6 separate regions of the Homo sapiens genome follow, and all the other regions are linked to region 5. The links come from fine-mapping of genetic effects on gene expression. A gene starts in region 5. Each other region holds a variant in brackets. All regions are shown on one strand. Distances are between the middles of the regions. Region 1 has its middle 53 kb from the start of LINC02848. Region 2 holds the start of LOC105375321 (a long non-coding RNA gene). Region 3 overlaps LOC105375321 (a long non-coding RNA gene). Region 4 holds the start of ZNF735 (zinc finger protein 735). Region 5 holds the start of ZNF736 (zinc finger protein 736). Region 6 overlaps ZNF736 (zinc finger protein 736).

The links. PIP is the estimated chance that this variant, and not a neighbour inherited with it, causes the effect.
Region 1: its variant is the best candidate, but not a certain one, in a credible set for the expression of ZNF736 in visceral fat (GTEx, PIP 0.88).
Region 2: its variant is the best candidate, but not a certain one, in a credible set for the expression of ZNF736 in whole blood (INTERVAL, PIP 0.60).
Region 3: its variant is the best candidate, but not a certain one, in a credible set for the expression of ZNF736 in nasal epithelium (TOPMed, PIP 0.67).
Region 4: its variant is the best candidate, but not a certain one, in a credible set for the expression of ZNF736 in whole blood (INTERVAL, PIP 0.72).
Region 6: its variant is the best candidate, but not a certain one, in a credible set for the expression of ZNF736 in whole blood (INTERVAL, PIP 0.67).

Annotation. Positions count from the first base shown.
Region 1 is chr7:63,844,422-63,849,591 of GRCh38, reverse strand. No RefSeq gene overlaps it. Among named protein-coding and RNA genes, the nearest start is that of LINC02848, 53 kb to the left of the region's middle. The variant C/T (reference allele first, on the strand shown) is at 2,885.
Region 2 is chr7:64,366,817-64,371,986 of GRCh38, reverse strand. LOC105375321 (a long non-coding RNA gene) reads right to left here and starts at 1,465. Exons shown (of 2, transcript XR_007060355.1): 1 at 387-1,465. The variant T/C (reference allele first, on the strand shown) is at 2,383.
Region 3 is chr7:64,374,368-64,379,537 of GRCh38, reverse strand. It overlaps LOC105375321 (a long non-coding RNA gene), which reads right to left. Exons shown (of 2, transcript XR_007060355.1): 2 at 1-4,971. Among named protein-coding and RNA genes, the nearest start is that of ZNF736, 63 kb to the right of the region's middle. The variant T/C (reference allele first, on the strand shown) is at 2,011.
Region 4 is chr7:64,203,378-64,208,547 of GRCh38, reverse strand. It overlaps ZNF735 (zinc finger protein 735), which reads right to left and starts at 1,345. Exons shown (of 4, transcript NM_001159524.1): 1 at 1,307-1,345. The coding sequence starts at 1,345. The variant T/C (reference allele first, on the strand shown) is at 2,283.
Region 5 is chr7:64,311,350-64,316,519 of GRCh38, reverse strand. It overlaps ZNF736 (zinc finger protein 736), which reads right to left and starts at 2,559. Exons shown (of 4, transcript NM_001170905.3): 1 at 2,367-2,559. The coding sequence starts at 2,369. RefSeq lists an enhancer at 2,327-2,506.
Region 6 is chr7:64,333,957-64,339,126 of GRCh38, reverse strand. ZNF736 (zinc finger protein 736) reads right to left here. Exons shown (of 4, transcript NM_001170905.3): 2 at 2,742-2,868; 3 at 2,145-2,240. Among named protein-coding and RNA genes, the nearest start is that of ZNF736, 23 kb to the right of the region's middle. The variant T/C (reference allele first, on the strand shown) is at 2,901.

The DNA of each region.
Region 1 (5,170 bases), 470 kb after region 5:
CCTAGAAATTCTATTGAGCAGAAATGAGCTGTTAGACATTGTAGTATAATGATATCATTTGTGATCATGTATAGCATCTTAGAAAATGTGGCCCAACTAAATCAGCATGGTCAGCATGGTCCTAAGTTGTTTTAGTGAAGTGATCAAATATCAGAGGCTTTAAATAAACCCTGGACAGGTGGCTTAAATTTCTGGTGAAATGTTCGAATCTTCAGTTCAGCTATTTTACACTATCCTTTAAGTGAGAGCATAAACCAGATTTCATGGGTGGAGGGAAAAAATTAACATTTTGAAATAGCTTTTGCTTATCTTAATCAGCAAATAACCTTCAAATAAGGTTCACCAAAATACTTCAACCCAGTAATGTTTTTTGAATGCTTCCCCATTGCTCTATTATACCACTTTTTTTTTTCTATGTTGTTTTTGCAGTGAGCCAATGATTAAGGCATTCTTTTTTCTTTCATTCCCTGATACCACCTGGGGTGGATGCAGCAGATCAATTTAACCTCTGAGTTTACCCAACTACAATATTTTTTCCAATCTGCTCATCTCCTCCAGTTCGGAGCTTTGGACAGTCTCCAACAAAGACTCCAACAGTTAAACATAGATTGGACATCCTACTTGAAACTTACTGAAATTTAGTGTCAGTTACCCAAATCAATTGACCTTCAAATCAAAACATTTTATTAAAAAATGGAACAAGTAGTCTATGCAATCATCATCAAAAAGAAAGATAACTTTTCTGTAGGTTTGGGTTCTTTTAAGTGTAAAATATCAGAGAAAAATTAATCAAATTAAAATAAATGTATTAAATATGTATCTTGATTTGCCATAGCAATTAATTACAGAGAACATCAAGGCTGGCCCAATAATTTGAGAAAGTAGTTTTTCCTTTATACCAAGATGTCATCACACAAATTTTGTAGTTCTGACTTAACTAAAGTTAAGCTATAATGTGTATGAATTCAATTATTCATTAAATAGATAAATGTATTGAGTTGTAAACACAAAATACTCTGTTAGACACTATGGAGAACAAAAAGGTGAATATTACTCTACCCTTAAATGATCTGTAACAAGTAATAAAAGCAGCCGGGAGTGGTGGGTCATGCCTAAATTCTGGTCTAAGGTGGGCAGATCAGTTGAGCTCAAGAGTTTGGGACCAGCCTGGGCAACATGGAGAAACCCTGTCTCTGTGAAAAATATAAAAATTAGCTGGGCATGGTGGTGTGCACCTGTAGTCCCAGCTACTTGGGAGACTGAGGTGGGAGGATCACTTGAGCCTGGGAAGTGAGGCTGCAGTGAGCCGAGATCACGCCACTGCACTCCAGCCTGAGTGACAAAGTCAGACTCTGTCTCATAAACAAAAAAAAACAAAAAACACACACACATAGAATAATAAATGCAACTAAAAACCTAACCAAATTAACAGGCTATAAAGGACTTTATTTTATTTTTTAGTTTTGACACAGGATCTCACCATGTTGCCCATGCTGGTCTCAAACTCCAGGGATCAACGGATTCTCCAACCTTAGCCTCCCAAACTAATGGGATTATAGGTGTGAGCCACCACATACAGTCAGTTTTTCATTTAATTTTATTACTATTTTTTGAGGCAGGATCTTTTCTCTGTCAAGCAGGCTGCAGTGCAGTGGTATAATCGTGACTCACTGCAGCTTTGAACTCCAGGACTCAATCCATTCTCCCACCTCAGCCTCCTGAGTAGCTAGGACTACAGGCACACGCCACCACACCTGGCTAAGCTTTGTATTTTTTTGTAGAGATGGGGTTTCACCATGTTTTCCAGGCTGGTGGATTTATAATCATAACCAAAACAATAACAATTATAGCTACCATTTATTGAACATCCACTATATGTGGGATAAATTCAGTCAATTATAAATTGTGTAATCTATCAAACAAACTTTGGGTTATTGTTCCCATTTTACAAATTATGAAAATAATTCTCAGAGAGTTCAACTAAATTTCCTGAGGTCACAGTGAGTAAATGGAAGGAGCAGAGCTTAAACCTAGGACTGTGTGACATTAAAGGTCATGCTGCTTCCACTGGTGATGCTAACACCACAAGGAGAAACAGTTAAAATTTTTAAATAAAGGCACAGTGCAGTGGCTCATGCCTGTAATCCCAGCACTTTGGGAGGCCGAGGCAGGTGGATCACCTGAGGTCAAGAGTTCCGGAAAAGCCTGACCAACAGGAAGAAACCCTGTCTCTACTAAAAATACAAAAATTAGCCAGGCATGGTGGCGCATGCCTGTAATCCCAGCTACTAGGGAGGCTGAGGCAGGAGAACTGCTTGAATTCGGGAGGCGGAGGTTGTGGTGAGCCGACATCAAACCATTGCACTCCAGCCTGGGCAACAAATGCGAAACTCTGTCAAAAAAAAAAATTAAAATTAAAATTAAATAAATAAAAATTATCAGGTAAAAAATGTTCCTTCTTTCAAAAATACAAAGAAAAAAAAGCCCAGGTATTTAAGATTTTTATAACCTAGTAAAATCTTATGTGTTTTTTATCTGAAAGAAATCATTCTGAAGATACATAACTTGCAACATCACCATTAAACATATCCAGTTTCAAATATGTGTTCACCCCTATCTACCCTTTTTTTTTTTTTTTTTTGAGACAGAGTCACTCTTGTTTCCCAGGCTGGAGTCCAATGGTGCGATCTCGGCTCACTACAACCTCCACCTCCCAGGTTCAAGTGATTCTCCTGCATCAGCCTCCTGAATAGCTGGAATTACAGGCATGCCCCAATACACCCAGCTAATTTTTTTGTATTTTTAGTAGACACAGGGTTTCTCCATGTTGGTCAGGCTGGTCTCAAACACCACTCAGGTAATTCGCCCACCTTGGCCTCCCAAA[C/T]GGCTGGGATTACAGGCGTGAGCCACCGCACCCAGCTGCCCTGTCTACCTTTATCTTTGCAACTGAGTTCTACAATTCAAATGAACTATCAACTGGGAAATTATTTTTCATATTGATGATATTCTGGTCTTTATAACAAAATCCTTAATTCTAGAAATGATGTACTTTATACATGAAAGAGGAAAGAGAGAAATTTTGTTATTTTCAAGATTTAAAATCTTATTTAAGGCTGAGCATGGTGGTTCACACCTGTAATCTCAGTAGTTTGGGAGGCCGAAGCAGGAGGAATGCTTGAGGCTATGATTTCGAAACTAGCCTGGGAAATAGAGCAAGACCTGGTTTCTACAAAATTTAAAAGTGAGCCAGGTACAGTGGCATGTGCCTGTACCTAGCTGCTCAGGAGGTTAAGGTGGGAAGATTGCTTAAGCCCAGGAGTTTGAGGCTGCAGTGAGCTTTATCATGCCACCGCATTCCAGCCTGGGCCACAGAGTGAGACCCTGTCTCTAAAAAAAAACAACGACAAAAAAAACACTCCACACCTTTTATTTAAGATATGCTTCATCAAGGCCAGGTATAGTGGCTCACACCTGTAATCCCACCACTTTGGGAGGCTGAGGCATGTGGATCACCTGAGCTCAGGAGTTCAAGACCAGCCTGGCCAACATGGTGAAATCTCATCTATACCAAAAATACAAAACTTAGCCGGGCGTGGTGGTGTGCGCCTGTCGTCCCAGCTAGTCGGGAGACTGAGACAGGAAAATCACTTGAACCTGGGAGCCAGAGTTTGCAGTGAGCCAAGATTGTGCCACTGCACTTTAGCCTGGGCAACAAAGTGAGAGAGTGAGACTCTGTCTCAAAAAATAAATAAATAAAACAAAGAAAACAACAACAACATATGCCTCATCACAAGTTAATAAAAACAGAAGTGACATTTTTAAAAGGAATGAAAAGTCTCTTTTGAATATAGGCTTATATTTCTCAATAAGGCTATCAAGTGAAGGTTTTAGCCTTCTTAGTAGCTAGGACTACATGAGTGTGCTACTGCACTTGGCTGAAGTCCACTTTTTTGGAAAGTTCACTTAATAAATGTATATATATTTTTGAGAAGGAGTCTCATTCTGTCGACTAGGCTGCAGTGCAGTGGCACGATCTCGGCTCACCGCAACCTCCACCTCCTACTTTAGCCTCCTAAGTAGCTGGGATTACAGGCACGCACCACAATGCCTGGCTAATTTGTGTATTTTTAGTAGAGACGGGGTTTCACCATGCTGGCCAGGCTGGTCTCAAACTCCTGACCTCGTGATACGCCCACCTCAGCCTCCCAAAGTGCTGGGATTACAGGCGTGAACCACCATGCCCAGCCTAGTTCACTTAATACTTTTACAAACATATATTACACCTTTGCTTGTAATTATAATCACTATTAAAAAATTACTAGCCAGGGCTGGGTGCAGTGGCTCACACCTCAGCACTTTGGGAGGCCAAGGTGGGCGGATCACAACGTCAGGAGTTCAAGCCCAGCCTGGCCAACATGTTGAAACCCTGTCTGTACTAAAAATACAGAAATTAGCTGGGCATGGTGGCAGGCACCTGTAATCCCAGCTACTCAGGAGGCTGAGGCAGGAGAATCGTTTGAACCTGGCAGACAGAGGTTGCAGTGAGCCGAGATCGCACCATTGCACTCCAGCCTGGGCGACAGGGTGAGGCTCTGCCTCAAAAAAAAAAAAAAAAAAAAAAAAACCCAACCAAACAAAAATTACTAGACAGGCAGGGAGCTCATGCCTGTAGTGCCAGTACTTTGGGTTTGCTTGAGCTCAGGAGTTTGACACCAGCCTGAGTAACACGGCGACATCTCATCTCTACCAAAAATATAAAAATTAGGCAGGTTTGGAGGTGCACACCTGTGGTCCCAGCTATTTGGGGGGCTGAGGTAAAAGATCAATTGATCCGGGAGGTCAAGGCTGTAGTGAGCCATGATCACACCAGTACACTCCAGCCTGGGTGACCAAGCGAGACCTTGTCTCAAAGAAAAAAAAAAAAAAGTAAAAACAAACAAGACACAGTATGCCAAGCTGTTCTAAACAGTTAACATTTCTTTTTTTTTCTTTTTTTTTGAGACAGAGTCTTGCTCTGTTGCACAGGCTGGAGTGTGGTGGTGTGATCTCAGCTCACTGCAACCTCCGTCTCCCGGGTTCAAGCAATTCTCCTGCCTCAGCCTCCCGAGTAGCTGGGACTACAGGCGTGCACCACCATGCCCAGCTAATTTTTGTATTTTTAGTAGAGACA
Region 2 (5,170 bases), 55 kb before region 5:
AAGTGGCAGGAGGGTAGCACAACTTAGGTGCTGTGGCAAGCAATATGTCACAATGCCCTCTCTAAGCAGGGTCTAAAAATGAGGGTTACATTAACTGGGTGCTGGACCCAGCAATATGACACAATCCCAAATGTGGAAAAAAACCCAGACAAATGATGAGAGCAAAAACACCTACAGAATGAGCCCAAGATATGTAAAAACACCTTCTGCTTCTCTGGCACAGGCAGGAGAGTTATATCATCAGGTGGGGGCCCAGCAATATGCTATAATTCTCTCTTATGCAGGACCCAGGCAGAAGAGGAACAGCATCTGGGTGCTGGGCCCTGCAATACATCAAAATTCCTTTTCACGGGCATGGTTTGAGACAAAAAGAAGAGTCATATTACCTAAGTATTGGGCTTAGCAATATGTCATATCACCCCATTGTAAAGGCTCAGGCAGAAGAAAAGAGTCACGTCACTTAGGACACGGGCTCAGATATATGGCCCAATGTCCCAACTAGGCAGGGCTCGGGCAGAAGAGAAGAGTCATATCGCCTAGGTGCTTCCCTAGGTATATAACACAATCTAACATGAGAGGTGAAAGCAAGCAGAAGAGCCACATCATCTTGATGCTGGGTCCTGAGATGTGTCACAAGGCTCCCTTAGGACAGGCCCCAGGCAAGAGAATTATAACAAAAAGGTGCAGGTTCTACCCTTATGTCACAATGCTCCAAGTGGGCAGGGCTTGAGCAGGGAGTCACATCACCTAGGTGACAGGCCCAGAGATATGTCACAATGTCCTCCTTGAGGCATGGCCCTGGCAAAAGAGTACCAACATCTGTGTGCCTGGCCTAGCAATATGTCACTATCCAGGTAAGCAGGACCCAAGCAGGAGAGCAACATCACCTAGGTGATAGGTTCAGAGATTTGTCACAATGCCCTCTTTAGGACATGACCCTAGCAAAAGTGTACCTGTGCGCCTGACCCAGCCATATGTTACTATCCCCCACTGGGTGCAGGGCCCATTCTAATGAGGAGAATTACATCACCTAAGTGGTTGACACAGTGATATGTCACAATGATTTCTGTGGGCATGGCTCAGGAGAAAATGTAACATGACCTGGGTGCTGGATCTAGTGATATGTCACAATTCTTACTGAAAGCAGGGCCCAGGCAAGAGAGTCACATCACCTAGAGGTTGGCCCAGGTAGAGATCACAATAACATATGTGGGCTGGACCCAGTCTGGAGAGTCAAATCACACAAGTGCTCGGCAAAGATTTATACGACAATCACAATGGCAGAACATTTCCAGGATAAGATTTACAATACCACATGTCCTGTTTTCATGACTGACAGTTGGCTTCATATATGTGAGACGGTGACAGTCCTTACTGTCAGCTGGGTGTGCATATGAGACTCACAATTGGCCGGGTGTGGTGGCTCATGCCTATAATCCCAGCACTACAGGAGGCCGAGGCGGGCGGATCACGAGGTCAGGAGATTGAGACCATCCTGGCTAACACGCTGAAACCCCATCTCTACTAAAAAATACAAAAAATTAGCCGGGCATGGTGGCGAGCACCTGTAGTCCCAGCTACTTGGGAGGCTGAGGCAGGAGAATGGCGTGAACCCAGGAGGCAGAACTTGCAGTGAGCCGAGGTCGCGCCACTGCACTCCAGCCTGGGCGACAGAGCAATACTCCGTCTCAAAAAAAAAAAAAAAAGAGACTCACTATTTCACCTTTCTGCTGGGTTGTTATGACACGCTCTGTACAAGCCAAGGGCTTTATAAAATATCTGAGGCTGTTATAATCTTCTTTGTTCTTTTCCTTTTTTTTTTTTTTAACAGAAAGAGATTTAATCACTTGTGTTTCTAAAGAAAGTTATGAGAGTCAAAATTAATCCTATTTGTGGGATCCACATATGAGAGTCATTATCATGCCTGTGAACTGTGCCTAGGTGTATGTCACAATTTACTCTACAGTAATGAAACAGGCACGACAGCTAAATAACATAAATGCTGAGCCTGAAATTTTCCAATATTCTCCATATAGGCCTGTTCCTGGCAGAAAAGTTGCATAACTTGGGGGTTACCTCCAGATGTATGGCACAATGCCCCTTGTGGGCAGTGTCCAGAAAGGAGACTCATATCACCTAAATGATAGGCCCAGAGATATGTCACAATGTCTCCTGTTGAAAGGACCAGGCAAGAGAATCATATTATTTGGACGCAGTGCTTAGAAATGCTACAATCCCTAGTGCAAGCAGGGTCCAGGCAGGAGAGGAGAGTCAGGTAACCTAGATGGTTAAGTCCAGAGACATGTTACAATTCTTCCTGAGGATATTGTTAACACAGGAGAGTCAAATCACCAAGATGCTCAGCTGAGGTAATTTTCCAAA[T/C]CTCATTTGTGGGTTACACTTAGGCAGGATTATTAAATCACTCAGGAGCTAGGCAAAGGTATATGTCACAATAACACTGGTGGAAAGTTCCAGGAATGGGAGTCACCATTTTGCATATGACCTGGCTCCACATTTAAGAGTCAGGATTAGTTCTCTTATCTGGCCTCAGGTATATGGCACAATATCACCTGTGAACAGAGAACAAGCAGGAAGGTCACATCATCTGCGCGGGTGCTGGTCCAGTGAGATGTCACAATCTTTCTGTGAGCAGGACCCTGGAAGAAGAGTCACATCATCTGGATGCTGGTTTTAGTGATATATCAAAATTCCCCCTGTGGGCAGGTGTTAGTAAGGTGAGGACACTGACTTCACCTAGGCAATTGGCCTAGATCTGTGTCACAATGGCCGCTATGTGCAAAACCAAGATATGAAAGTGACCTCACCTTGGCACTGGGTTTAGCAATATGTCACAATCTCCTCTGTGGTCAGGGCAAGGCAAGAGAGGAGAAAAATCACCTTGGTGCTTAACAAAGCTTCCTGTTGGCACAACCCAAAGCGCAGAGTCATATCACCTGGGTGCAGTACCCAGTTATGTGTCACAATGCATCATAAGTGCAGGGCCAAGGCAGTAGAAGGGAGTCACTTCACTTACATGATGGACCTAGATATAAGCCACAATGCTTTTTTTTTTTTTTTTCCCCGAGATGGAGTTTCACTCTTGTTGCCAGGCTGGAGTGCAATGGTGCAATCTCGGCTCACTGCAAACCTCCGCCTCCTGGGTTCAAATGATTCTCCTGCATCACCTCTGGAGTAGCTGGGATTACAGGTGCCCACCACCATGCCTGGCTAATTTTTTGTGTTTTTAGTAGAGACGGGGTTTCACCATGTTGGCCAGGATGGTCCTGAACTCCTGACCTCAGGTGATCCACCCGCCTTGCCTCCCAAAGTGCTTGGATTACAGGCATAAGCCACTGCGCCCGGCCAGCCACAATGCTTTTTATAGGCAGGGATCAGGTAAAGAATTCTCATCACTTGGGTGCTGGTCCCAGTGATTCATAAAATTGCCCTTGGTAGGCAGGCCCAGGCACCTTTGCTTAGGTGTATGGTCCACATATGTCACAGTTTCATCTGTGGTCATGACCTGAAAAGAAGAGTCGTTATTCAGGAGCTGGGCTTTTATGGTCTAATTACACACTTCGAAATATTCAGAAATAAGTTTCACAGTCCCACTCAAGTCCTGGCTCTGTGTGTGTGAGTCAACACCTCCTGTGATTTTGGTCAAAGCAGAGGACTCACAATCTCAACAATGGGCAAGATCCATGTATAAGATGCCCAATCCCACCTGAAGATTGTGTTCCAGTAGGGGAGTCCCAGCCTCACAGGTGTGCTAAATCATGCATCACCAAACCACAAGACAATGATGTCTACTTTTACCACTTTTATTCAACAGAGTACTGGAAGTCCCAGTCAGATCATTTATGCAAGAGAAATAAATAAAAGACATCCAAATAAAAAAGGTGAAAGTCAAATTGCCTCTGTTTGCAGATCACATAATTGTCTATATAGCAAAAGTTAAATACTACACTAAAAATCGTTAGAATTAATAAAGAAATTCAGTAAAGTGGCAGAATACCAAATTAACATACAAAAATTAGTAGGAACATTTTTACATGACAAGAATAAGCCATCTGAAAAAAAATTCAAGAAAAAAATCACTTACTACAGCTATAAAAAATAAGTCCTACTTCATTCTAAGTTCATGCTTGTGGTAAGGTTCACCTTTATTTTTTGTCATTTGGATATTCAGTATTCTCCAACCCATTTGTTAAAAAGACTGTTCCTTTCTCATTTTGAGTGATAGAGACAGTAGATAGCCAAGGGACCTTTTCCTATTTTGAGTCAGAGACAGGAGACAGTCAAAGGTCCTGGGCGAAACTCCGCCTTCAAGCCTAAAAAACAGCCTGAAGGCTGAAAAACTGGACTGCTGGTTTCAGATGAAGCCCGCCCTTTCCTGACTGTTTCTCTCTGAATAATGCCCACCTGTGCACTGGGAAAAGAAGTTGGAGCCATAGAAATTCACACCTTTTGGCAGAGGAGGAGACTGGACTCTTCAGTTGCTATGTGGTGACCTGGTGTTCATCAATATGTGAGGTGGGGGCCCGTTAACAGGAGTCCCTCTCACTTTGCTGACAGTTTTTTTTCTTTTTCCTTTTTGCCCAATAAACTTTACTCCTCACCCTTCAGTATGTCTGTTAGCCTATTCGTTCCTGTTCATGTGATAAGATCCTAGTTTTAGACGAACTACGGAAAAAGTTCTACATTTCGGTGTCTAGATGTGGGGCTTGAGGAAGGGTAAGATGTAAACCAAAATATCTTTTTCTACTTTGCTTGTAAGCCTTTTTATCCTTGGACTTCTCCGAGGGTAGAGGAAACTGTGCACCACCCCAACAGCCCCAGGCATATGCGGGATGGACAGGTGAATGGCGGCTCCTCACCCCCATCTCCTCTGGGCTGGAAAATGCCAGGCATTCACGGTGTCTTCCCCTTCACCGGCCAAGCGATCCAGCCTCATCCAATAACAATTAAGTTTTTCCCTCTGTTGAAGGAATCATTTGCATAAGAATGAAAATGTTCTTCCCTGCCCTACACTTAAGCCTTTCCCCCCCTTTTATTCACCCTGTCAGCAGTGTACTTTTAAGCAACAGGCTTTCTTCTTCTTCTTTCTTCTTCTTCTTTTCTTCTTCTTCTTCCTTCTTTCTTCTTCTTCTTCTTCCTCTTCTTCTTCTTC
Region 3 (5,170 bases), 63 kb before region 5:
GAGAGTCAAAATATCTCTACTGGCTGGGTCCAGGTATAAGAGTTATTATTGTGCATGTGAGCTGAACCCAGGTATATGGCACAATTTCTCCTGTGGGCAGGGACAAGGCAGAAGAGTCACATCACCTGGGTAAAGTCTCAAGTAGTATGTCACCAATCCTATTATAGAAAGGGTTTAAGAAAAAGAGAAGAGTCACACTACCTAGTTGCTGGGCTCATAAATATGTAATAATCCCCTCTCTTGGCAGAGTCCAGAATAGAAAGGAGATACATACAACCCAGGGCACAAGCTGGAGAGACACATCATCTAGCTCATAGGCCCAGAGATATGTGATAATATCCCCTGTTGACAGGGCCCAGGCAGAAGAGTCACATTCATATGATTCTGACGCAGTGATATGTAACAATGCACCCATGGAAAGGAATTTAAGGAATAAAGTCTCAACACCTGGGTACTAGGCCCAGTGATATGACACAATCTCATCATCTTTGAGGGTGACACCTTTAACTTTTAGCTGAGTGTGTATATTAGAGTCACAATCTCACATGTGTGCTGGGCCAACGTATAACCCTCTCTATGACATCTGAGGGCTTTATAAAACCTGCATGAGAGTTGCAGACCTCTCTGAGGCCCACATGCTCGTATGGACTCACAATCTTACATATTGCCCTAAACCCAGGTTTGATAGTCAACATCTCTCCTTTAGGCAGGGTTAAGGGAGAAGACCTATTATTATGCCTGTGGGCCGGGTCCAGAAATGCGTCACCATCCCACCTGTGGCCAGATCCACGTATAAGAGTCACAATTCCAACTTTGTGCTGTATTCCCTTGTTAGACTCAGGACCTCAAGAGTGGGCACTGTAAACGTGGGATGGTGACAACTTTTAATTTCAACTGGGTGTGTAATTGACAGTCCCAATCTGAACTTTTTGCTGGACCCTGTTAAGAAACTCTCTACCACCAAAGACTTTATACAATATAAGTTAGTATTGTAAGCTTCTGTGACCTTGGTACAAATATGCAACTCAGGACCTTACCTATTGCCCTAAGCGTAATGATGAGAGGCAAAATATCTCCCATTTGCTGAATCCCAATATAAGTTTAATCATCATGCCTGTGAACTGAAGTAAGGTATATGCCATAATCCCATTTGTGGGCAAAAACTAGGCAGGAGGGTAACATCACTTAGGTGCTGGGCCAAGCAACATGACACAATGCTTTCTCTAGGCAGGGTATAGGAAATTGGGCCACAATAACTGGGTGCTGGACCCAGCAATATGACACCATCTCACGTGGAAAAACCCAGCCAAGTTATAAGAGCCAAAACACCTACATAATGGGTCCAAGATATGTCAAAATACATTCGGTGGCTCCAGCACAGGCAGGAGAGTCACATCATAAGAATGCTGGGCCAAGAAATATGCAATATGCCACAATTTCCTCTTTTGCAGAACCCAGGCAGAAGAGTAACATCATCTCGATGCTGGGCCCTGCAATAGGTCCAAATTCCTTTTTTGTGGGCATGGTTCAGCAAAAAGAGGAGAGTAACATATTCTGAGTGCTGGGCTCAGCATTGTGTCAAAATCCTCCTATTGTGAAGGCTGAGGCAGAAAAAGAGGGTCACATCATCTAGGTCATGGGGTCAGAGGTATGTCCCAATGTCCCCAGCAGGCAGGACTCAGGCAGACAAGGAGAGTTATATCACATAGGTGCTTCCCTAGGAATATGTCACAATGTAACATGTGGGCAGAGACCAGGCAGAAGAGCCACATCATTTGGGTGCTGGGTCCTGAGACAGGTCACAAGGCTCTCTTAGGACAGCACCCAGCCAAGAGAGTTACATCACCTGGGTACAGGTTCTCTGCTCATGCTACAATGCTCCATGTGGGTAGGGTCCAAGGAGGGAATCACTTCACCTAGGTGATAGGCCCAGAGATATGTCACAGTGTCCTCCATGAAGCATAGCCCTGGTAAAAGAGTACCATCACCTGTGTGCCTGGCCTAGAAATA[T/C]GTCACTCTCCAGATTGGCAGGGCCCAAGCAGGAGAGTCGTATAACCTAGGTGATATGCCCAGAAATATGTCACAATGCCCTGCTTTGGGCATGGCTCTGGCAAAAGAGTACTCTCATCTCTGTGCCTGGCCTTGCAATATGTCACTATCCTTCCTTTGTGCAGGGCCCATTCCAGAGAGGAGAGTTACATAACCTATGAGGTGGACACATACCCTAAACCCAGGTATGACAGTCAACATCTCTCCTTTGGGTTGGCTTCAGGGATGAGAACATTATTATGCCTATGAGCTGGGTCCAGAAATGAGTCACCATCCCAACTGTGACCAGAATCACTTAAGAAAGTCACAATTCCAACTTTGTGCTGTCTTCACTTGTTAGATTCAGGACCTCAACAATGGGCTTTGTAAATGTAGGATGGTAACAACTTTTACTTTCACCTGAGTGTGTAGTTGAGAGTCACAATCTTAACTTTTTGCTGGGCCCTGTTATGAAACTCTCTGTACCACCCAAAAAGTTTTTATGATATGAGTTAATGTTGTAAATTTCTGTGAGCTTTGTACAAATATGCAATGAAGGACCTTACCTATTGACATAAACCTAGTGGTAGGGGGCAAAGTATCTCCTATTGGCTGAATCCCAATATAAGCTTGATAATCATGCTTTTGAACTCAAGCAAGGTATATGTCATAATCCCATCTGTGGGCAAAAAATCTAGGCAGAATGTTAACATCACTTAGGTGCTTTGCCAAGGAATATGTCACAATGCTCTCTCTAGGCAGGGCCTAGGAAAGAGGCTCACATTAACTGATGGCTTGAGCCAGCAATATGATACAACCACACGTGGAAGAAACCCAGCAAACTGATGAGAGCCAAAACACCTACAAAATGGGCCAAAGATATGCCAAAATACCTTCTGTGGCTCTGGCACAGGCAGGAGAGTCACATCATTAGGGGGCTGGGCCAAGCAATATGCCATAATTCCCTCTTTATGCATGACCTGTTTATGCAGAAGAGTAACATCAACTGGGTGCTGGGCTCTGAAATACGGCAAAAGTCCTGTTCACGGGCATTGTTCAGCAACAAGACGAGAGTCACAATACCGAAGTGCTGGGCTCATCAACATGTCACAATCTTCCCATTGTAAAGGCCCAGACAGAAGAGAGTCCCATCACTTAGGTCAGGGGCTCAGAGATATGGTCCAATGTCACCAGTAGGCAGGGCTCAGGCAGAAGAAGACAGTCATATCATATAGGTGCTTCTTTAAGTATATGTCACAATTTAATATGTGGGCAGAACCCAGGCTGCAGAGCCACATCACCTGGTCCTGGGTCCAGAGATATTCACCAGTCCCCCTTAGAAAAGGATCCAAGCAAGAGAGTTCCATCACCTAGGTGCAGGTTCCACCCTTATGTCACAATGCTCGATGTGGGCAGGGCCAAGCAGGAAGTCACATCACCTAGGTGATAGGCCCAGAGATATGTCACAAAGCCTTCCTTAAAGCATGGCCCTGGCAAAAGAGTACCATCACCTTTTTGCATAGCCTAGCAATATGTCACTATTCAAGTGGTAGGTCCCAAGAAGAGCCATATCACCTACATGATAGGCCCTCTGATATGTCAAAATGTTCTCTTTTGGGCATGGCCTGGCAAAAAAGTATCATCACCTGTGTGCCTGGCCTAGGAATATGTCACTATTCTGCCCTGTGTGTAGGGTCTTTTCCAGAGAGGAGAGTTACATCTTCTAAGTGATGGACACAGAGATATGTCACGATGATGTCTGTGGGCATGGTGCAGCTGCGTGCTGGATCCAGTGATGTCACAATTCTTACTGAGAGTAGGGCCCAGGCAGAAGAGTTCTTTAACACTTCAAGGTTGGCCCAGGTAGATATCAAAATCCCATATGTAGGCTGGAACCAGTCTGAAGAGTGAAATCTCACAGGTGCTTGGCAAAGATTTATATCACATGAAATTTATATCACATGACTATCACGATGAAATAAAATTTTAGGGATTAGATTTACAATACCACACATGTTCTGTTTTCATGTAGGACAGTTGCCTTCATCCATCTGTGATGGTGAAAGTCCTTACTGTCAGGTGGGTGTGCATATGAGACTCACAATTTTCTCCATGTGCTAGGCCCTGTTCTGACACTCTCTATACAACCCAAGGGTGTTATAAAATATGTGTGTGTTATAATCTTCTGTGACCTTTTTACCAGAAGGAGACCCTTTACATCACTCATGTCCCTAAACCTAGTTATGAGTCAAAATTTCTCCTATTGGCTGGGTCCACATATGAGTCATTATCATGCCCGTTAGCTGTGCCTAGGTATGTGTCACCATCCCCTCTGTAGTTATTAAACAGGCAGGACAACCACATCACCTAAATCCTAAGCCAGAAATATTCCAATATTCTCTTTGTAGGCAGGGCCCTAACAGAAAAGTCACAAAACTTGGGTGCTAGGCTCAGCTCTATGGCATAATGCCTCTTGTGGAGAACATCCAGGCAGGAAAGGAGAGTCGCATCACCTAAGTGATGGGCCTAGAGATATGTCACAACTCCTGTTAAAAGGGCCCAGGCAAGAGAGTCATGTCATTTGGATGCAGTGCTTAGAAATGCTACACTCTTCACTGGAAGCAGGGTTCAGGTAGGAGAGGAGAGTCACATAACCTAGATGATGGGTCCAGAGATATGTGACGGTCCCTTCTGAGGACACTGTTAAGATATGAGAGTCAAATCACCAAGGTTCTTGGCCCAGGTATACGTCAATATGTCATCTGTGGGCTATAACAGGCAGGATTATTAAATCACTCAGGAGGTGGGCACAGGTATATGTCACAATAACACCTGTGGAAATGTTCAGGGATGAGAGTCACCATCCTGCACAAGTCCTGGCTCCAGGTACAAGAGTCCTTATTAGGCCTTTGATCTGGTCTCTGGTATATGGCACAATATTACCTGTAGGCAGAGAGAAGAAAGGAAAGTCACATCAGCTGAGTGGGTGCTGTTCCAGTGAAATGCCACATTCCTCCTTGTAGGCAGGACTCTGGAAGAAGAGTCACATCACCTGTATGCTGGTTTCACTGATATATCTAAATCCCCCCCTGTGGGCAGGGCTTAGGCAGGAGAGGAGTCAAACTTCACCTTGGCAATTGGC
Region 4 (5,170 bases), 110 kb after region 5:
TGGTGGCTCATGCCTATAACCCAAGCCTGTTGGGAGGCTGAGGCAGGCAGATCACCTGAGGTCAAAAGTTCGAGACCAACCTGGCCAACGTGGTGAAATCCCGTCTCTACTAAAAATACAAAAATTAGTTGGGCGTGGTGGCCTACACCTGTAATTCCAGCTACTCGGGAGGCTGAGGCAGGACAATCATTTGAACCAGGAGGCAGAGGTTGTAAAGAGGTGAGATTGCACCACTGCACTCCAGCCTGGAGGACAGAGTGAGACTCCCTCTCCAAAAAAAAAAAAAAAAAAAAAAAAAAAAAACATTTATTGGAGATTACTATCTTGAAGAAAATATTCGGGCCTAGGCAACCACAATCTGCCAATGAATCTCTGATGACATAACCAATAAATTTTCACCTGGATCTTCCAAGTAAAAACACTAAATAACTGTACCAAACCAATTATTGCATTTGGTTTGCTTCATCATGCAACTTATAACAGACTTTTCTTCAAGTCTCTCCCATGGATCACAACCCACAAGCCATAGCTGGGCGCTCTATGGTTCTTCTTTTTTTTTTTGAGGTGGAGTCTTGCTTTGTCGCCCAGGCTGGAGTACAATGGCGCGATCTCGGCTCACTGCAACCTCCGCCTCCCGGGTTCAGGTGATTCTCCTGTCTCAGACTACCGAGTAGCTGGGACTACAGGCACGTGCCACCACACCCAGCTAATTTTTGTATTTTTAGTAGAGATGGGGTTTTACCATGTTGGTCATGCTGGTCTCGAACACCTGACCTCGTGATCCGCCCGCCTCGGCCTCCCAAAGTGCTGGGATTACAGGCGTGAGCCACCGCGCCTGGCCCGCTCTATGATTCTTGAATCACGTTTTGATTAAATTCTCTAATATTTTTACAGTGACTCCCACACATCTCTAAAAGGAAAAATGAGGAACTAGGGACCCCAGGGACCACAGCTCTTACCACTTATGAATCCTGCACCCTGTGTCAGGATTCTCCCCTGATAACTTTCCCAATCCCTGTACAATCTGGATGAGATGAGGCGCTGGGAGTGCAGAGCTGCCCAGAGAGGGCTCCAGCCCAGGGCAAAGCCACTGCAGAGGAAAAAGACAGAACTCCCAGGGTCCCAGCCGCTGGCCCAGGCACCATCTTAGGGCTGGAGGGGGCTAACAGCCGAACTGGGCCAAGGAGGATTTGGGTCCTCAGACTCCGGAGCTGACTGCGAGGAAGTATGGGTCCTGCTGCAGCCACTTTCAGCCGGTTCCAACCACCTCCCACCCCTCTCTCACGATGACAGACCCAGCACTCACCATTTCTCGGCTTCCAGGGGGTCCCGGTCTTTTAGCCATAAATCTGCGGATACCTGCAGGACACAAGGCCACAGTGGCTTGACCTCTAAGAGCAGAGGACGCAGAGCAGTGAAGAGAAGAACTGGAGCTCTGGACGCAGAGAAACACAAAAGGCCCGGTAAAATTACGGAGGCGTCCTGTTCTCTCCAGCTGCATGCCTGATTATACAGTTTCTAATATATGGCCCCTGATGGGATAAGGTTTCAGGCCCCACCCTTCACGCCCTGAGTGACGGAATATTTGATCAGACGCTAGGCTGAATGAAGCAAAAATAACAGCCTAAGCTGCACCCTTTACAGGCAGGGCTTCTTCCCTGATCTGAGCCAGGCCAACACCAGAGGATATTTGCATTTAACCTTGTGTATAACGTCATATGCATTTATAAATGATATATAATATAGTTATTCACAAATTGAAATAATATAATGACAATTATTTTAAAATTTCGGATTTTATGACCTTCCTTGCTGCGGATCCTTTGCAGTGATATGGTTTGACTCCGTGGCTCCACCCAAATCTAATCTCAAATTGTAATTCCCGTCCGTGCGCGGTGGCTCACGCCTGTAATCCCAACACTTTGGGAGGCCGAGACAGGCGGATCACGAGTTCCGGAGTTCCAAACCAGCCTGGCCAATACGGTGAAACCCCGTCTCTACTAAAAATACAAAAATTAGCCGGGCGTGGCAGCGCGTGCCTGTAGTCCCAGCTACTCGGTAGCCTGAGGCAGGAGAATCGCTTGAACCCAGGAGGTGGTGGTTGCAGTGAGCCGACATGGCACCATTGCACTACAGCCTGGGCGACAGAGCGAGACTCCGTCTCAAAGAAAAAAAAAATTGTAATTCCCATGTGTCACGGTAGGGACTGTGTAAGAGGTGATTGGATCATTGGGGTGGATTATCCTCATCCTGTTCTTGGGATAATAAGGGAGCTCTCAAGA[T/C]ACCCGATGGTTTAAAAATGTGGCACATCTCCCCTCCCCACCTTCCCGGTTCTCTCTCGTTTTCCACCGTGTGAGATGTGCCTTGCTTTCCCTTCACCTTCTGTCATGGTCATGATTGTAATTTTCTTGAGGATTTTTCAGCCCTGAAGGACTATGATTCAATTAAACCACTTAAAAAAATTACGCAGTGTGAGGTATTTGTTTATAGCAGTGTGAAAATGGACTAATACATGCAGGCAGCCTGAGATTTCAAAAAGGAGGCAATCCTCTGCAGTAAAATATGAGCCACATGTAAATTTTGGATTTTCTAGTAGCCAAATGTTAAAAAGTAAAAAGAAAAAGGTGGGGCTGGGTACAGTGGCTCACACCTGTAATCCCAGCACTTTGAGAGGCCTAGGTGGTGAACGACCTGAGGTCAGGAGTTCGAGACCAGCCTGGCTGACAAGGCGAAACCCCGGCTCCACCAAAAATAGAAAAATTAGCTGGGTGTGGTGACAGGCACTTGCAATCCCAGCTACTAGGGAGGCTGAGACAGGAGAATTGTTTGATCCCGGGAGGCAGAGAATGCAGGGAGCTGAGATCATGCCACAGCACTCCAGCCTAGAGACGGAGCGACTCTGTCTCAAAATAAAAAAGAAAGAAACAGGTGGAATAACAGGTGGAATTGACTGTAACAATTTAATCAGCCCAACATATCCAAAATATTATTATTTTACTATGTGATTAGTATGTAATGGTTAATAAAGCATATACATTTTTGAAGCTAAATCTTTGAATGTACTCTTGTATTTTACCTTTCCAGCACATTGCAGTTCAGACCAGCCATATTCCAGCACTCTGTGGCCATATCAGAGGCGTTTGAACCAGAGCAACTGCATCTGGAATAGGTGCTGGGTAAAATGGGGCTGAGACCTACAGGACTGCTTTTCCATGAGGTCAGGCATTCTAAATCACAGGGTAAATAGGAGATTGGCACAAGATGCAGTTCACAAAGACCTTGCTGATAAAACAGTTTGCAGTAAAGAAGCCAAAAAATCCACCAAATCCAAGATGGGAGTGAAAGTGACCTCTGATTATCCTCACTGATCATTACGCGCTAATTATAATGTGAAAGACATTCCCACCAGCGCCATGACAGTTAACGAATGCCATGGCAACATCAGAAAGTTACCTTACATGGTCTAAAAAGAAGAGAAACACTCAGTTCTGGGACTTGCCCACCCCTTTCTTGTAAAACTCATTAATAATCCACCCCTTGGTTAGCATATAATTGAGAAATAACTGTAAGTATCCTTAGTTGAGCAGCCCACACTGCTGCTCTGCCTACGGAGTAGCCATTCTTCTATTCCTTTACTTTCCTAATAAATTTGCTTTTGCTTTGCACTGCAGACTTACCCAAAATTCTTTCTTTTCTTTTTTTTTCTTTTAGACAGAGTCCCCCTCTGTCACCCAGGCTGGAGTGCAGTGGCGCCATCTCGGCTCACTGCAACCTCCACCTCCTGGGTTCAAGAGATTCTCCTGCCTCAGCCTCTGGATTAGCTGGGATTATAGGCATGCACCACTATGCCCGGCTAATTTTTGTATTTTTAGTAAAGATGGGGGTTTCACCATGTTGGCCAGGCTGGTCTCGAACTCCTGACCTCAAGTGATCCTCCTGCCTCAGCCTCCCAAATTGCCGGAGTTACAGGCAGAAGCCACCACCCCTGGCTCTAAATTCTTTCTTATACGAGATCCAAGAACCCACTCTTCGGTTCTGGATTGGGACCATTTCTGGAAGCTTCATTTCATTGAATCACAAAGGGACGAAACTAAGGAAACCCCCAACCCAAAGGAAATAGACTGAATCACCAGTTGGCTAACTTTTTGCAAGTGGTGGCGTACCCAGGTAAAGAATGGGATTGGGTGGAGTTAAGAGTTTGCAAGTGGTGGCGTACCCAGGTAAAGAATGGGATTGGGTGGAGTTAAGAGTTTCTCCTAAGACGTATAAGATAAAAGGTCTCTTTTAATAAAAGGCAAGAATACTTGACAAAACTTGTGTTTGAGGCACAACTTCAAAAGGTTAGAGTCTTTCCTAAGATTTAGGGGGTTAGAGGCCCCTCTCAGTAAAGTCCCTCTCAGCTAAGATTAGATTTGGCATTATGGAGTGTTAACCACTGTTGTCTTTGTGATTTTTTGTTTGTTTGTTTGTTCGTTCGTTTGTTTTGAGACAGAGTCTCACTCTTGTCACCCAGGCTGGAGTGCAATGGCAAGAACTTGGCTCACTGCAACCTCCGCCTCCCAGGTTCAAGCGATTCTCCTGCCTCAGCCTCCTGAGCAGCTAGGATTACAGGCGCCCACCACCACACCCAGATAATTTTTGTATTTTTAGTAGAGATGGGATTTCACCATGTTGGCCAGGCTTGTCTCAAACTCCTGACCTCAGCTGATCCACCCACCTCAGCCTCCCAAAGTGCTGGGATTACAGGCATGAGCCACTGCACCCGGCCTTGTCTTTGGATTAATCTGCCTTGCACTTTTTGCTAATGGCTGTGGCTGACAGAATTAGGCGAGTACAGGATCATGGAACGTGGGGAGCTTTTTCCTCCCTAAAGTGGGAAACTTGAGAGCAGATGGGACTGCTGAAAAAGATTCTTTCACAACAAGAGATCACCTACACTTTTGATTCACTGCAATGCGTGGGTCTTTCTCTGGCTTTCCTGAGCTCCTCACCTTTCCTGCTCCACCATAGGCCACGCTTTTCTCTCTCTCTCTTCTTTCTCTCTCTCTCTCTCCTTCTTATCTTTTCTGTTACTCTGGGCCACCATCTTGCCCAGAGATCACATGTTGAAACTTCTGGTCAGAAGTCCCTGAAACAGGCTGGGCATGGTGGCTCACGCCTTTAATCCCAG
Region 5 (5,170 bases):
CCCCTGTGTGGCAGATGTGTATTTTGCTTTGCAAATTTATACACTCCCTCACTAGAGTGGATCTTTCCTGTACTTTGGGACAGTTATTCTCCTTCACAAGCCTGAGAGAAACCAGAGGGCAAGATGCATTTGTGCCTTTTCCCCTCAATATCAGCACCTGATTGGTTGACCACCAATGTGTCTGCAAGAAATGAAAACTAGGATTGAGGGGAAAAAAATCTTAATGTTAAAGCAGTTAGCTTTTTAGAGGAAGGGTGAATCAGGAAACTGCTCTCAGCACGAGGGCATCCAGCTGCTCCCCTGAGAGGCTCCACCCAATGCCTCAGGCTCTTCTCTGAAAGGAGATGACCCAGGGGCTAATGTTTGCTAGACACTCCAAGAGATATGGTCCTTGTGGGTATCTTGGATCATCCCCAGAAAGCTGTAATACTTGGACCAGGAAAACACAGGAGAGTGACTGAGGACACATCACCCTGCAAAGGATCCAAAGACATTCTGGGAAGGCGCGCGTGCCTAGAGAAGATGAGAGGAGATGCGCAGTGTCAGGTGACTACTCTTTGCTTTTCTGTCCTGTGAAATATGCACAAACAGACTAATATATTAAAAAGAGCCACCCACGGCTCTGTTAAACAAAAATAAACAAAATGCCACATCCGTTTTAAAATTAAATAAAGAACTGATAGTTCATAATGTGATTTGGAGAGGGATAGTTGGCATTTGGGAATGTGGGAAAGAAATTGGAAATTTAGAATTTTATACAGTCCCTAGAACAGTTAGGCTGGGAGAACAGTTTTAGATTTGAGACCCTGCTTGCCAAACATTTGAAAAATGCAGAGAAAACCAACGACCCTGTGGAGCATTAAAATAATTAAATAGCTAGCAATTAGGCTGAAGTGGCCATGGTGCCCTGGGATTCTGCCTAAGGAAACCTAACTACGTCGAAGGAATTTCTGGTAAATTATTAACTTTGAGAAACAACAACAACAACAACAAAACAACTTAGGCTTAACCAACCACAAGCTGCCAATAAAAAGCTCTAATTACATAACCAGGACATTTCCACCGGAGGGCTGCAAATGCAATACGTAACTGTAACCAATCAAATATTGAATCTGGTTTGCTTCCTCATACCTCTTAAAAAAAAAAAACAACCTTTTGTTCCAAGACCCTCCTTTGAGCCCCCAAACAACAAATCATAGCTGGGTGTTCTCTGATTGATAAATTACTGTTTGTGCAAGTAAACTATTTGTATTAATCGCTTCTGGCATTACTATAAATACCTCAGACTGGGTAATTTATAAGAGGATTAATTGGCTCATGGTTCCACAGGCTGCATAGAAAGCATAACACCAGCGTCTGCTTCTGGGGAGGCCCCACCCAGAAAGCTTAAAATCATGGATGAAGGTGAAGCAAGAGCTTGAAAAAGAGGCAAGGTGGGGTGCTGTACACTTCTAAATGATGAACTTCAGGGAACTCACTCACTATTGAGAGGACAATACCAAGAGGAATGGTGCTAAACTATTCGTGAGAAATCCGGGCCCACAATCCTTCCACCAGGCCCCACCTCCAACATGGGGGATTACATTTAAATAGGAGATTTGGGCTGGAAAACACATCCAAATTATATCCTAAAGTTGCCTCAATTTAGGCTAGGGTGGTGGGTCATGCACGTAATCCCGGCACTTTAGGAGGCCCGAGGCGGGCGGATCACCTGAGACCTGAGCTCGGGGAGTTCGAGACCAGCCTGAGCAACATGGCAAAAGCCTGTCTCTACAAAAACAAACAAAACAAAATAGGCGTGGTGGCGCACCCCTCTAGTCCTAGCTACTTGGGGGGCTGGGGTGAGAGGATCATCTGAGCCCAGTAGGTGGAGGCTGCAGTGAACCGAAATGCACTTTAGCCTGGGCAACAGAGTGAGACACTGTCTCAAAAATAAATAAATTTAAAAAAGGGCCATGATTTTATTTTTAAAAGGAGAAAGGAGGGACTAGGGACCCCACGGCCCACTGCTTCTTCCACGGAGGAACTCCAGACCCTAAATGAGAATTCCCGTCTTATGACACTCCCAACACCCCCACACAATCTGGAGGAGGGAGACTCGAGGTTGCGGCACAGAGCTGCCCAGGAAGGGATCTGAGCTGGGGAGAAATTCGAGTTTAGGGACAAAACAAGACGTAGCGTTTTGGCTGCTGGCTCAGCCCCTAATCTGCGATGGAGGGAAATGAGGATTGAGCTGTGCCCGCGGGGACTCGGGGATGCAGACTCCAGAGCAGACCGCGAGAAGGCCCAGATACCACCGCAGCCGGTTCCGGCCGGATTCAAACAGCCTCTTCCCCATTCTCGGGACACCCACTCCACGCACTCACCATTTCCCAGCCTCCAGATGTTCCGCCGTCCTCCCTATGGATCTCCCAGTACCTGCAGGTCACAGGATAACAGAAGCTATAGTAGAGTCACCGAGGAACTCCAGGAACGGAGGAGATGGAACAGTGGAGACGCGAACTAGGATCAGAGCCCGGAAGCTAGGAGACAAAGGCCCCGCCATATTGAAGAGGCCGCCTCTTCCTCTGTAGCTGCGCACTTGATTGGACAGTTTCACGCTGGCGCCACTGATTGGCTAGGGCTCCAGGCCCCACCCGTTTCAATCCTAAGTGACAGAAGATGTAATCAGACACTGGGCTGAATGAGGCAAGGGTGACAGGTTTTTGCCTGCAGCGTTTTCAGGCGAGTCCTCCCTGTGCTGGGGGCCTGGCCCTGCCTGAGAGACATTTGTATTTAACCTTGCATATAAGATTATATCACTTTCTGATTATATTTTCGTGTGTGTGTATATATTACATTCTGAATTATAGTTATGTGTATGCTGCAGGCCCTGTCTCAGCATCCTGTCTTTCCCTTTAGCTGCAGGAGATCAAAGTCCTCCAGGAGATGCAGCTGCTTCAGCTGGCTGTAGACAATTATCACCTTCAGTCTGTGAAGCAATTTTGGGTCTGCTTCCAATTAATGGAGTGTCTCAGTGAGACTGAGAGGTGAGGGCCTAGCAGATTGGTTAGAGGTGCCACTCGCCCAGGCCTCCCAAAACACCCTGTCTCTTTCCCACCAAAGCTGAGCCTGCCTGAGGACCTAAACAAGCATGGAGAACCAAGATGGGACCCTAGTCAGGGATAGTGCTGGGCTGTGGGGTAAAGTCAGCTAGGTCAGGGCCTCCAGGTGTGGGGAGGAGCCGGCCTCTTCTGTAGAGCCCTGGGCAAGTCACTGCCCTCTTTGGGCCTCTGTTTTCTTATCTAAAAAATGTAGGGATGATGAGCCTCACAGGGTAATGAGGAGCTTCAAAGGAGAAAAATTTGAGAGTGCTTGTGCCTGGCTCTTCCTGAGAGAGATGATGATGAGAACAATGGTGACGGCTACATATAACTGAGTCCTCACGAGGCCCAGTGAGGTAGGTGTGGTTCCCATCACACTTTCAAGTTGAGAAACAGTCTCAGGGAGGCCTGGCTGCATGCCCAAGGTTCCACACACAGTGAGTGTTGCAGCAGGGAGTGAATCTAGAATCAGAGTTTACTGGAGGTGGCAGGAGCACTGGACCAGCTTGACTCACACCAGTTATCCAGGGTACCAGGTCAATGTAACTGGGCATAACTGGGTGAAGGGAGCATAATATCACTGACCTTGTCCTTGACCCTGGCAGAGGAAGACACCCAAGTTGGCCACCCTAGAGAAGAAACCACAGAAAGCCCAGATGAGGCTAAAGCAGCAAAAAGGCAGGTACCTGTGATGGGGAAGAGCTCCAGGGATTCAGAGGGAAGAGCTCCTCCCTCCCAGCTGGAGGCCTCCACATCAAAAGAGCAAGGGGCCTTTCTCCCTCAGCCCTTCCCTCCTGTGGCAACAGTCCCTGAAATGCCTCTATAAGAGAAATCAGAGTAAAGGCCTGGAAGAGCTGGGCTGAGTGGATTTGGGAAACGGTGGAGCTAGGGACCACATAACATTGTGACTTGTTAAAATCTCACCACAGAGTTAATAAGGGAGTGCTTCATGTTTTTGGAGGCCAGCTAGGAAGAGGGGAGAGAGTTGGAGAGAGGCAGCTGCGTGTCTTTGGCTTTTTCAAGTAAAAGATGTGGATAGGAGAGTCCAGGAGATGGGGGCTTATGAGATTTCAGGGACAGGCCTTGAATGGACACCCAAAAGTGGATACTCATCCCCATCACCACCTGATAGCACAGGGTGTTGCTGACTTTCACCTCCCCACTCTCTCCCAATGTTGCCCCAGCTGCTCACCTTCCTTTTCTTTCTGGGTGTTACATTTCCCTAGAAGTCAGCCAATGGTCATCAGAAAGGCCCCTTGGACCCTGACTAGGTCCCCTCCCCACACTCTTCATACTGCATTACTGCCAGGGCCACCAGGGGCAGGGGATGTGCACAAAGCAGGACTTGGGTCTGCAGCAGGTTCTGGGGTTCAAAGGGGACAATGGGAGCTGAGGCTCAGGGACCTCCCACCCCAACTCTCTTTGATGACAGACATAAAAACTGAGGGCTCCCATTTAAAAAAGTGCTCAGCCAGGCCAGGCACGGTGGCTCACACCTGTAATCCCAGTACTTTGGGAGGCTGAGGATGGTGGATCACCAGGTCAGGAGTTCAAGACCAGCCTGGCCAAGATGGCAAAACCCCGTCTCTACTAAAAATACAAGAATTAGCTGGGCGTGGTTGTGGGCACCTGTAATCCCAGCTACTAAGGAGGCTGAGGCAGAGAATTGCTTGAACCTGGGAGGCGGAGTTTGCAGTGAGCCAAGATCATGCCACTGCACTCCAGCCTGGGTGACAGAGGAGGCTCCATCTCAAAAAAAACCAAAAAACAAAAAACAAAAGTGCTCAGCCACATACGAGCTGCCTGCCCTTGGAGAGGCCTAAGTTTACTATCCTTCCATTGGCACCATCTGAGGGAGAGTCTGAGTCCAGCTCAGGCAAAACCTCACTGGGCTTTGCAAGCAGACAGCTCTGCAGCTTCATCACTCAGGGAACAGGGACTGGTGGCTGGTGTGGAATCTTCAACATTCATAGGGAAGAGGGGCCTGATACCTCAGCTCACAGAGGCAGCCGTGACGCTCTCATGAGAGGAAGTTTGCCAAGTGCTGAGATCTAAGGGTGTAGTCCTGATTCTCTTCTCCCAAGCCT
Region 6 (5,170 bases), 23 kb before region 5:
CAAATGAAAACATACAGTTGGGCAACAGGTATATAGAAAGGTGCTCAATGTCACCAATCTGGCAGATGCAAATTAAATTCATTGTGAGATATTACTTTATACCTGTTAGGACTGCTAATATCAAGAAGATTTATAACAAGTGTTGACAATATATTAAAGAAAAGATGCTGTACAATTTTAGTGACGTACAATTTTTTAGAGACATTATGAAATCTAGTATGTAGGTTCTTTTAAAAATTTTTTAATAGTACTGCTATACAATTCAGCTATCTCATTTCTGCATATACAATAAATTTACTATCTCAAAGAAATACCTGCACCTCCATGTTCATTGAAACATTTTTCACAATTGTCAAGATACAAAAGCAATCTAAAGTGTTTGTGGAAACTGACTGCACAAAAAAAAAACATGGCATGTATACAAAATAGAATATTATTCAGCCATAAAAAATAATAAAACCCTGACATTCTACAACATGGATGGACCTAGATGATGTTATGCCGAGTGAAACATCACAGAAACAGACAAATACTGTATGATCTCACTTCTATGGAGAATATAATAAGGTTGGACTCCTAGAAGAAGAGAGTATAGAGGTGAGTGCTAGGCCCTGGAGGTGGAGAAAGTGGAGTATGTTGTTCAAATGGTACAAATTTTCAGTTAAAAGACAAACAAGTTATGGTAACCTAAGGTACAGCTTTATGACTACTGAAAGTAATACTGTTATGTATGCTGAAAATTTGCTGAGAGATCTTAATTGTTTTCACTACAAAAAAGGTAACTTGTAAGGTCATAAATGTGTTTGTTCATTAATTTGATTGTATTAATCATTTCTTTATGTATACACATACAAAATCAATACACTGTATACAATACATAGGTATTCAATTATTATTTGTGAAAAAATTCGCCTTACTGGGATTATATGTGTGTCATACACATGCGTATATAAATGTGTTTATATATATACATATGAATGACACAATCACAGTGAGCTTCATACTAAATAAAACCACAAAACGATGTCGTTTAAAATAAAGTTAAAATTGAGAGTTTAATATGTACTCAGCAGACTGGGCACAGTGGCTCATACCTATAATCCTAGCATTTTGGGAGGCCAAGGCAGGCAGATCACCTGAGGTTGGGAGTTCGAGACCAGCCTGACCAATATGGAGAAACCCTGTCTCTACTAAAAAATACAAAATTAGCCGGGTGTGGTGGCACATGCCTGTAATCCCAGCTACTAGGGAGGCTGAGGCAGAAGAATCGCTTGAACCTGGGAGGCGGAGGTTGCAGGGAGCCGAGATCGTGCCATTGCACTCCAGCTTGGGCAACAAGAGCAAAACTCTGTCTCAAAAAAAAAAAAAAACCAAAAAAAACAAAACAAAACAAAACAAAAAAAATACTCAGCAATGTTTTAAGCTCCCCAATGACATAGTATATTTAATAAACGTATGAAGTAGATACAATGAACTATAATACATACAGTTGAGGAATTTGGCCATATTTACCAACATTTGTTTATATGAAAAGAATAACATTTGAAGTAACACAATTTTAGAGTTTGTTTCATTTAGGGAGATGCTTAGTGTTTTGATATAATTACTGAGTATAAATTTCTGTAAAATCACGTTTGAAGGTTCCATAGAATAGAAAATTATAAAGCAGGAAGCACACATCTTTTTGTGGTATTCCTGGGATTTCTGATCCAAACTGTAATATCACCAAAACTTAAATATTTAGACATTATCCAAAAACAGAACTTAAAAAAATGGTTTAATATAGTTTCTCAAAAATACAGATATTGCTGTTTCCCCAAAGCAATGGAAAAGCAGTCAAATCACACATTTTCTGTCAAGCCATGAAAGACTTTCATTATTGCTGTAAACTAAAAACAAAAAACAAAACAAAACACACACACAACACACACACACACATTACTGAAGGGGAAGTACAGTGCTTGGAAAATTCACAAGAATGGGACAAAAAATGTCCCTATGTTAAAGCAAGAGAAAGAAATGAAGGTTTCTCAGAAACCATTTCCACTGGAGCAGAGCTTCTGGAAGCATGTTTAAAGGTTTGGCTTCCTCCTTGACATTGGGATCCGTCATTTGTGTCATCTGCTTCATTCACTCCCACCTACCTGGGTGTTTGGCTACTGCCTCCTGTCTCTTCACTTTCCAAGGCTCTTTTCTTTGCTCCAGACAGGTCATCAAGTCTGGCTTAAAGATAGCAAGACCTGTTTTATTAGAAAAAAAAACATGACTCTTGCTAGGATAATCTGATTACTAATCTAGTACTATGCTCAGTAGAGAAGAGAGAACATTATAGAAGACTCTAGAAAATTAATTTTAATATACTGTTTCCTAACAGAAACTTTAGAATATTTAGAAAGTATTTTAAATTTGTGGTTCTTAGCTCTATTACCCAGTAATACTGAATCAAAAATCAGCTGTGAAAATTGCATTTTTAGGTGTGGGTAACAATATTTTATGCTACTAAATTTCTGATATTACCACTAATTTAGACTGAAGTATACAGATGAGCTCAAAAAAGGGAAAGATTAATGTTAAGATGAAACATCTTGAAGATTATATTTTCTACCTCAACAGATACCCAATTTTTTCTTTTTGAAGCAGGATTCTGAAACTCATTTATGCAAAGCAGAACCTCCAAAAAAATCAGAAGAAAATAAAATATTTAATGTAGAATATGAGTTGTATATTGAAGTTATTCTCACCCAAGGAGACCAGGTTTCCATAGTTCTCTAACATCACATCCCTATACAAACGCTGCTGAGCAGAGTCCAGGCATTCCCACTCTTCTGGGGAGAATTCTACAGCCACATCCCTGAATGTCAACACTCCCTGGAAAACAAAACATATTTACCAAGTGACCA[T/C]AGAAAGAATTCTTGATTTGACATCAGGTAAAATGAGAATAAAGATAGCTGGTTCTGACTTATATGAGTTACTGGAGTTATCCAGTAGGATACTTTCTAGCACAGAAATATTCTCTAGTGTATTTTTAACTCTGAGAAAAGATGGCATAAGATCATGAAACCAGTGTATGTGCAATACTTTTCTTGATGATACAGTATAAAATAAAGGACATTAACACAGGCATGTACATTTCTTAATGCTACATTTACATAATACAAGAAAAGCTGTCTATAGTTCCCATATGGAAACTTCATGGTGAGTTAAAAGCATACTTCTCAAATCTTATTGTGTATAGCAATGAACAGGAGATCTTGTTAAAACCTAGATTTTGACTCTGAAGATCTAGCGTAAAGCTTGAGTTTCCAAATTTGTAAGAAGTTTGCCAGTGGTATCGTTGCTTCTGGCCCAAGGAGAATATTTTGTCAAAAATTCAGTAAGTGGCACAGCCTAGGTTTTTAGTTTATTTGACCAGTAAAGAAAGACGAGAGCCTTCATTTTCCATAGCAAGCGATATGCAAAGAGAAGGTAGGAAGAAAGAAGAGCTGTCAGATTAAACATGGCTAAATCTTGTTTTTGCACATCACTTGATAAACTCCCCAAGGTATCTATTAATAGAGAAAAATAATGAACTGTAGAGTGAAAAATATCTGTCAGAAAGCGTATTTACCAAGTAAATAAATTAAGATCAACTATATTAAAAGAAATTTGTATCAGGTGCTGATTAACAAAGAAGGATACAAGACTACTGTGCTATTATTAACATTAACACAAAAAAGGGTCAACAATCTGAGTCTAGTCATGAAGAAACATCAGTTTTAGGCAAAATGTAAGCTACAAATATCTCCCATGTTCTGTAATCTCTAATTTTTGGCTAAACTTTTTTTTTTTTAAACTTTAAGTTCTGGGATACATGTGCAGGTTTGTTACATAGGTATACATGTGTCATGGTGGATTGCTGCACCTATCAACCCGTCATCTAGGTTTTAAGCCCCACATGCATTAGGTATTTGTCCTATTGCTCTCCTTCCCCTTGCCCCCATCTGCTGACAGGCCCTGGTGTGTGATGTTTCCCTCCCTGTGTCCATGTGTTCTCATTGTTTGAATCCTACTTATGAGTGAGAACATGCGGTGTTTGGTTTTCTGTTCCTGTGTTAGTTTGTTAGTTTGCTGAGAATGATGGTTCCAGCTTCATCCATGTCCCAGCAAAGGACGTGAACTCATTCTTTTTTATGGCTGCATAGTATTCCATGGTGTATATGTGCCACATTTTCTTTATCCAGTCTATCATTGATGGGCATTTGGGTTGGCTGCAAGTCTTTGCTATTGTAAATAGTGCTGCAATAAACATATGTGTGCATGTGTCTTTATAGTAGAATGATTTAAAATCCTTTGGGCATATACCTAGTAATGAGATTGCTGGGTCAAATGGTATTTCTGGTTCTAGATCCTTGAGGAATCACCACACTGTCTTCCACAATGGTTGAACTAATTTACACTCCCACCAACAGTGTAAAAGCATTCCTATTTCTCCACATCCTTGCCAGTATCTGTTTCCTGACTTTTTAATGCTCGCCATTCTAACTGGTGTGAGATAGTATCTCATTGTGGTTTTGATTTGCATTCCTCTAATGACCAGTGATGATGAACTTTTTTTTATGTTTGTTGGCTGCATAAATATCTTCTTTTGAGAAGTGTCTGTTTACATCCTTCACCCACTTTTTGATGGGATTGCTTTTTTCTTGTAAATTTATTTAAGTTCCTTGTAGATTCTGGGTATTTGCCCTTTGTCGGATGCATATATTGCAAAAATTTTCTCCCATTCTGTAGGCTGCCTGTTCACTGATGACAGTTTCTTTTGCTATGCAGAAGCTCTTTAGTTTAATTAGATCCCATTTGTCAATTTTGGCTTTTGTTGCCATTGCCTTTGGTGTTTTAGTCATGAAGTCTTTGCCCATGCCTATGTCCTAAATGGTATTACCTAGGTTTTCTTCTAGAGTTTTCATGGTTTTAGGTTTTACATTTAAGTCTTTAATCCATCTTGAGTTAATTTTTGTATAAGGTGTAAGGGAGGGTGGTCCAGTTTCTGTTTTCTGCATATGGCCAGCCAGTTTTCCAAGCACCATTTATTAAATAGGGAATCCATTCCCCATTGCTTATTTTTGTCAGGTTTGTCAAAGATAAGATGGTTGTATATGTGTGGTGTTATTTCTGAGGCCTCTGTTCTGTTACA